Linked DNA regions of Homo sapiens: region 1 is linked to region 2. The links come from fine-mapping of genetic effects on gene expression. A gene starts in region 2. The other region holds a variant in brackets. All regions are shown on one strand. Distances are between the middles of the regions. Region 1 overlaps LACTB2 (lactamase beta 2). Region 2 holds the start of TRAM1 (translocation associated membrane protein 1).

Region 1 (2,915 bases), 36 kb before region 2:
TTTGCCCACTTTTGATGGGGTTGTTTTTTTCTTGTAAATTTGTTGGAGTTCATTGTAGATTCTGGATATTAGCCCTTTGTCAGATGAGTAGATTGCAAAAATTTTCTCCCATTCTGTAGGTTGCCTGTTCACTCTGATGGTAGTTTCTTTTGCTGTGCAGAAGCTCTTAACCACAATGAGATACCATCTCACACCAGTTAGAATGGCGATCATTAAAAAGTCAGGAAACAACAGGTGCTGGAGAGGATGTGGAGAAATAGGAACACTTTTACACTGTTGCTGGGACTGTAAACTAGTTCAACCATTGTGGAAGTCAGTGTGGCGATTCCTCAGGGATCTAGAACTAGAAATACCATTTGACCCAGCAGTCCCATTACTGGGTATATACTCAAAGGATTATAAATCATGCTGCTATAAAGACACATGCACATGTATGTTTATCACGGCACTATTCACAATAGCAAAGACGTGGAACCAACCCAAACGTCCAACAATGATAGACTGGATTAAGAAAATGTGGCACATATACACCATGGAATACTATGCAGCCATAAAAAATGATGAGTTCATGTCCTTTGTAGGGACATGGATGAAGCTGGAAACCATCATTCTCAGCAAACTATCGCAAGGACAAAACACCAAACACCACATGTTCTCACTCATAGGTGGGAATTGAACAGTGAGAACACATGGACACAGGAAGGGGAACATCACACACCGGGGCCTATTGTGGGGTGGGGGGAGGGGGAGGGATAGCATTTGGAGATATACCTAATGTTAAATGACGAGTTACTGGGTGCAGCACACCAACATGGCGCATGTATACATACGTAACTAACCTGCACGTTGTGCACATGTACCCTAAAACTTAAAGTATAATTTAAAAAAAAAAAAGAGTCTTTTTCTGACCACCTTCTGCATGTTAAGAAAGTTTCTTTTAAGCTTTTAGATAATAACTACTAAAATAAATTTACCATTTATTAAGCATGCAATTTTGTGCCATCTGCTATGCTAAGCACTTAAATACTTGTCTTTGAAAAGTATATACTGATGCCAGCCTAGGCAACATAAAGAGACCTTGTCTTTACAAAAAAATAAAAATAAATTAGCCAAGCGTGGTGGCACATACCTGTGCTCCCAACTAGTCGGGAGGCTGAAGTTGGAGAATTGCTTGAGCCCAGGAGGTTGAGGCTGCAGTGAGCCAGGAACATGCCACCACGCTTCAGCCTGGGTGAGAACAGCTTGGAAAACATAACAAGACCTTGATATATCTCAAAAATAAATAAACATATATGTATATATGTGTATATGTGTGTGTGTGTGTATATATATATA[T/A]AAAATGATGTAAACATATAATGATGTAGGAAAATACAATATAGTAAGTTAAGATTTCAAAAATCAGGTATTAAAACAATATCAGTTTTGTTTTTAAAATATATAAATATGCATAGAAAATCAAAAAGTATATATTCTGTAATAATAAAAGCTCTCCCTCTGAGGAATAGAAATGATTGTTGATGTTCATTTCTTTTAAACACTTTACTTTTCTATTTTCCAAATTTGTTATAATCAGTGCTTATTATTTATAAAGTAAGAAAAATGGTAGGAGGCCAGATGAGGTGGCTAATGCCTGTAATCCCAGCACTTTGGGAGGCCGAGGTGGTAGGATTGCTTGAGTCTAAGAGTTCAAGACCAGCCTGGTCAATATTGTGAGATCCTGTCTCTACAAAAAATAAAAATAAAAATAAATTAGCCAGGCTTGGTGGCCCACACCTGTGGTTCCAGCTACTCAGGAGGCTGAGGTGGGAGGGTCACTTGGGCCCAGAAGATTGAGCCTGCAGTGACCTGTGATCCTGCCTCTGCACTGCAGCCTGGGCAACAGAGTGAGACCCTGTCTCAAAAAAAGAAAAGAAAAAGGGTGGGAAAAGTATTAAATTTTACTTCAGAGTGAGAATCTTGGTTTAGTTAAAGGAGAGAATTTTCTAATGATAATTTTCAGTGGGTTCAAGAAAAGAAAAAGCAGCTTTTTAACTCATCTGTTTATTTGTGTCTAAAGATAAGGATACAGAATAATTTACTTCTCAAAATTTCTTCTAAGCTCGAGTTCATAATTGTTATTATTCCTTATTTCTTCTTTCAACCAGAGTTCTATATACCCCTGGCCACACTGATGATCACATGGCTCTACTCTTAGAAGAGGAAAATGCTATCTTTTCTGGAGATTGCATCCTAGGGGAAGGAACAACGGTATTTGAAGACCTCTATGATTATATGAACTCTTTAAAAGAGTTATTGAAAATCAAAGCTGATATTATATATCCAGGTGGGTAATTTTTAAATTTTTTTATATTTTTATGTTTTTAAATAGAGACAAGGTCTTGCTATGTTTTCCAGGCTGTTCTCAAACTCCTGACCTCAAGCAGTCCTCCCACCTCAACCTCCCAAAGCGCTGGGTATACAGGCATGCCAAAGTGGGTAGTTTTTCAAACCTAGCAAACCATTTGTGTCAAATGATGAGGAAGGTTCATTTTGGCTTGTCTCTGTATGTATTTGGCCTTGAAGAGATAACATATAAGGCCAGGCTCAGTGGCTCACACCTGTAATCCCAGCACTTTGGGATGCCAAGGTGGGCAGATCATGAGGTCAGGAGTTCAAGACCAGCCTGGCCAACATGGTGAAACCCCATCTCTACTAAAAATAAAAAAATTAGCTGAGTGTGGTGGCGCACACTTGTAATCCCAGCTACTTGGGAGGCTGAGACAGGAGAATCGCTTGAACCTGGGAGGTGGAAGTTGCAGTCAGCAGAGATTGCACCACTGCATGCCAGCCTGGGTGACAGAAGCAAGACTCTGTCTGGGGGAAAAAAAAAACATATCAACTACTTCTTTAAAATATACCCCTCTTTGAGAGGCCTA
Region 2 (2,915 bases):
TCATTTCTAGATTACTTATAATAACACAACATAACTGCTAAATAAATAGTTGGCTGTACTATATTATTTAGGGAATAATCATGGGGGGGTAGTCTGTAGATGTTCAGTACAAATGCAGTTTTTTTCTTGAATATCTTTTACTCCAGGTTGGTTGAATCCACAGTGTATGCGGCACCCACAGATATGGAGAGGCAACTGTATAGTGTGTGTAGTCAATAATGCTGGTACAGAGATTATGGCCTGTAGATGCAGGGCTCCAGTCTGTTGGGGTAGGCAAGGACCAAATCAGAAAGGGCTATTTCATCATGCTAGCTTTCCATGAAGGGAAAGGGAACCCGCTGAAAAACTTTCTGCCAGTAGAAGCATCATTCTAGTATAAACGTTGAAAGGTGATCTGAAGGGAAATGAAACTAGTGATTGCCCAGAAGGAGGAAAAGAATAATCCCTGACTAAATTTATAAAGCCCTTACTCCCCGCTAAGCAGTTTCCTTCAATCATCTCATTTAATCACTAAAATGAGCAATAGTTATCCCCACTTTATAGATGATATCCACAGGGCTTGCTCCCTCACCTCCTGCAGGTCTTCAGGCAAGTATAAGTGCCTCGCACTTTCCTATTCCCCTTGCTTTATTTTTCTCCTGGTTGCTCAACTCAATTTAACATCTGTTTCGCTTTTGAAATCTTGTTTAAAGATTCTCTCCCACACTAGAATGATAAGTCCCTAGGAATAATTTAATTTGTATTTCAGTTCTGTATCCCCAGTGCCCAGGACACAGTCAACCCTCAGTAAGTACATAAATGAATACATTTTTAAAAATGAGGAAATCGGGTCCCATAGAGATTAAGTAACTTGTCCTTGATCGTACAAGTAATAAGTGGCAGAATTCTGATTTAACAACCCACATTCTTAAACCACTAAGTGGTTACACCAGAGTTGTAATATTGTAGGCAAGAGGCAAGTACCCTCGGACTGCGGTAGTGGGGAAGCGGGGTGATAGGTCTGCCTCGAATTGGTGATGACTGGATGTGGAAGGGCGCTGAAAGGGCTCAATCTAGCATGACTTTGGTTTCTACATTTGGCTTATGGGTAAACAGGAGAGCAATTCTTCAGGAAAAAGAATACAAAGGACTCCAGGTTTGGGCAAAACGATAAGAGGAGGACGTGTCTTAATCCACGATCCTTTTTAACTCTTTTACTATTTCCCTTAGATTACTAAAACATGTTGTTAATTTGAATATATGTGAAGCCAGTAAACCCAAACTGATCCCTTCGTCTTCAGTCTGAGGCCAGTGGGGGATAGGGGTGGGGATGGGGACGGGGATGGGGGTGGGGACGGAGAGGCAGACCAGAATAGGGTCAGCTCTTTTTTTTTTTTTAAGTTAGTCCAAACTTACCAAGAGTAGAAATAAGTCCCCAGCAGTGCTTAACTCTGAGGTAATTTTTAAGGCAGATGCTAAAACTGGAGAATACACCGTACCCTTGTGGAGTCAGGTAGTATTCGTAGTTTTAGATTATCCTGACGGTGTTAGTCACTTGTAGAAGTGACAATGTGCAACAGGCCACTGACACCCAATCCCTGGATGGCCAGGAGGGCAGGAGGGCACCCGGCCGCGGCCTCAGGCTGCTGAGCAGGCGCAGGAAGCTCGCGCCTCAAACGACTCCCAAACCCGGGCCCGGCGCGAAGCAGGGAAGCGCCGCTCACATTCCTGCACGCTCGCCCGGCCGCGGGCCAGCGGCCTCCGGTCCCCAGGTGGCGCTGTGGGCTCGCGGAGGCGGCCGCGGCACCAGGGAGCGTCGTCTCCCTGGTGCGCATGCTCGCCCCCGCTGCGGGCTAGCTGTTGTGTTTTTTTTTTTCCCCCGGGCGGCCCGGCGGCTGCGTACTGGCTGTGGGATGGGAAGTGAAGCCCCAGCGAGCGGCTGCAGCGGGGCCGTGAGGAGCAGCCAGCGGGAGGCGGCGGCGAGTCGGTGAGCAGCTGGGAAGAGCAGAACCGGGGCGGAGCACCTGCAGGCGCGGGCGGCGGCCCCACCATGGCGATTCGCAAGAAAAGCACCAAGAGCCCCCCAGTGCTGAGCCACGAATTCGTCCTGCAGAATCACGCGGACATCGTCTCCTGTGTGGCGATGGTCTTCCTGCTGGGGCTCATGTTTGAGGTGAGCCCGCCCCGAGTCCCAACCGCCTGCCCCGCCACCTCCAGCCCGGGCCCGGGCTCCAGATGCCAGCCCCGGCTTCTCCGCCCAGGACGCGGGGGGCTCGGGCCCGGGGTGGGTGCAGACCCCCAGTCCCTGAGGTGCAGGCCTTCCCTGCCCTGCCCCACGTCGGCGGCAGCTCCCCGGCGGCCGGCCCGGAGATGCAAAGTCCCGGTGGGCCTCATCGCGGCCCGCAGGGGGTGGGGACCGCCGCGTCGCCCCCTTCCTGACCCGCCGCCGCCCCCTCCCGCAGGCTGCGCGGCGCAGTTCCTGGTTCCCGCGAAGGGTTACGTGGCAGCCGGCGAGGGGCCTGCGGGCGGGGGCGGCCCCTGCGCTGCCGAGCTGGCTCGGGGCGGGTGGGCGGACTTGGGGGGACTGCCAGCCTCGGCCGCGGTGAGCGTCAGCCCCGCGAGGGCCGGGGAAGGCCGAGGCCCGGCCCCCGGGTCTGAGGAGTGCCGGCCTGGAGACCACAGGCCCCGAGTGACAGGGGAGCCCCCGGTAGCTCCGAGATTGGGGTGAGCGAGAAACCGGAGTCAGGCATCTGCTTTCGACTTGAAGGGCGGTGGCCGCCGGGCACCGGCGCAGTGGAGGCGCGCCAGATTGTTTTCATTTTTGTCTTTTAAACTGATATTATTACCAGTTAACGAACTTTTTGCCCTGACGCTTTAAAGAAACAAGGTCTGATGGATAAATCGAGGTTCTGAACAGCGGTGCCAAGGAATCGAGT

What was found. PIP is the estimated chance that this variant, and not a neighbour inherited with it, causes the effect. A credible set is the group of variants that fine-mapping cannot tell apart.
Region 1: its variant is the best candidate, but not a certain one, in a credible set for the expression of TRAM1 in whole blood (INTERVAL, PIP 0.52).

The regions. Positions count from the first base shown.
Region 1 is chr8:70,643,473-70,646,387 of GRCh38, reverse strand. LACTB2 (lactamase beta 2) reads left to right here. Exons shown (of 7, transcript NM_016027.3): 4 at 2,145-2,323. All of the region lies in intron 1 of LACTB2-AS1 (LACTB2 antisense RNA 1), which reads right to left. Among named protein-coding and RNA genes, the nearest start is that of LACTB2, 24 kb to the left of the region's middle. The variant T/A (reference allele first, on the strand shown) is at 1,336.
Region 2 is chr8:70,607,314-70,610,228 of GRCh38, reverse strand. It overlaps TRAM1 (translocation associated membrane protein 1), which reads left to right and starts at 1,813. Exons shown (of 11, transcript NM_014294.6): 1 at 1,813-2,152. The coding sequence starts at 2,030. It overlaps LACTB2-AS1 (LACTB2 antisense RNA 1), which reads right to left and starts at 1,652. Exons shown (of 4, transcript NR_038881.1): 1 at 1,396-1,652. RefSeq lists silencers at 1,647-1,816, 1,897-1,946, 2,007-2,066, 2,117-2,296, 2,317-2,766.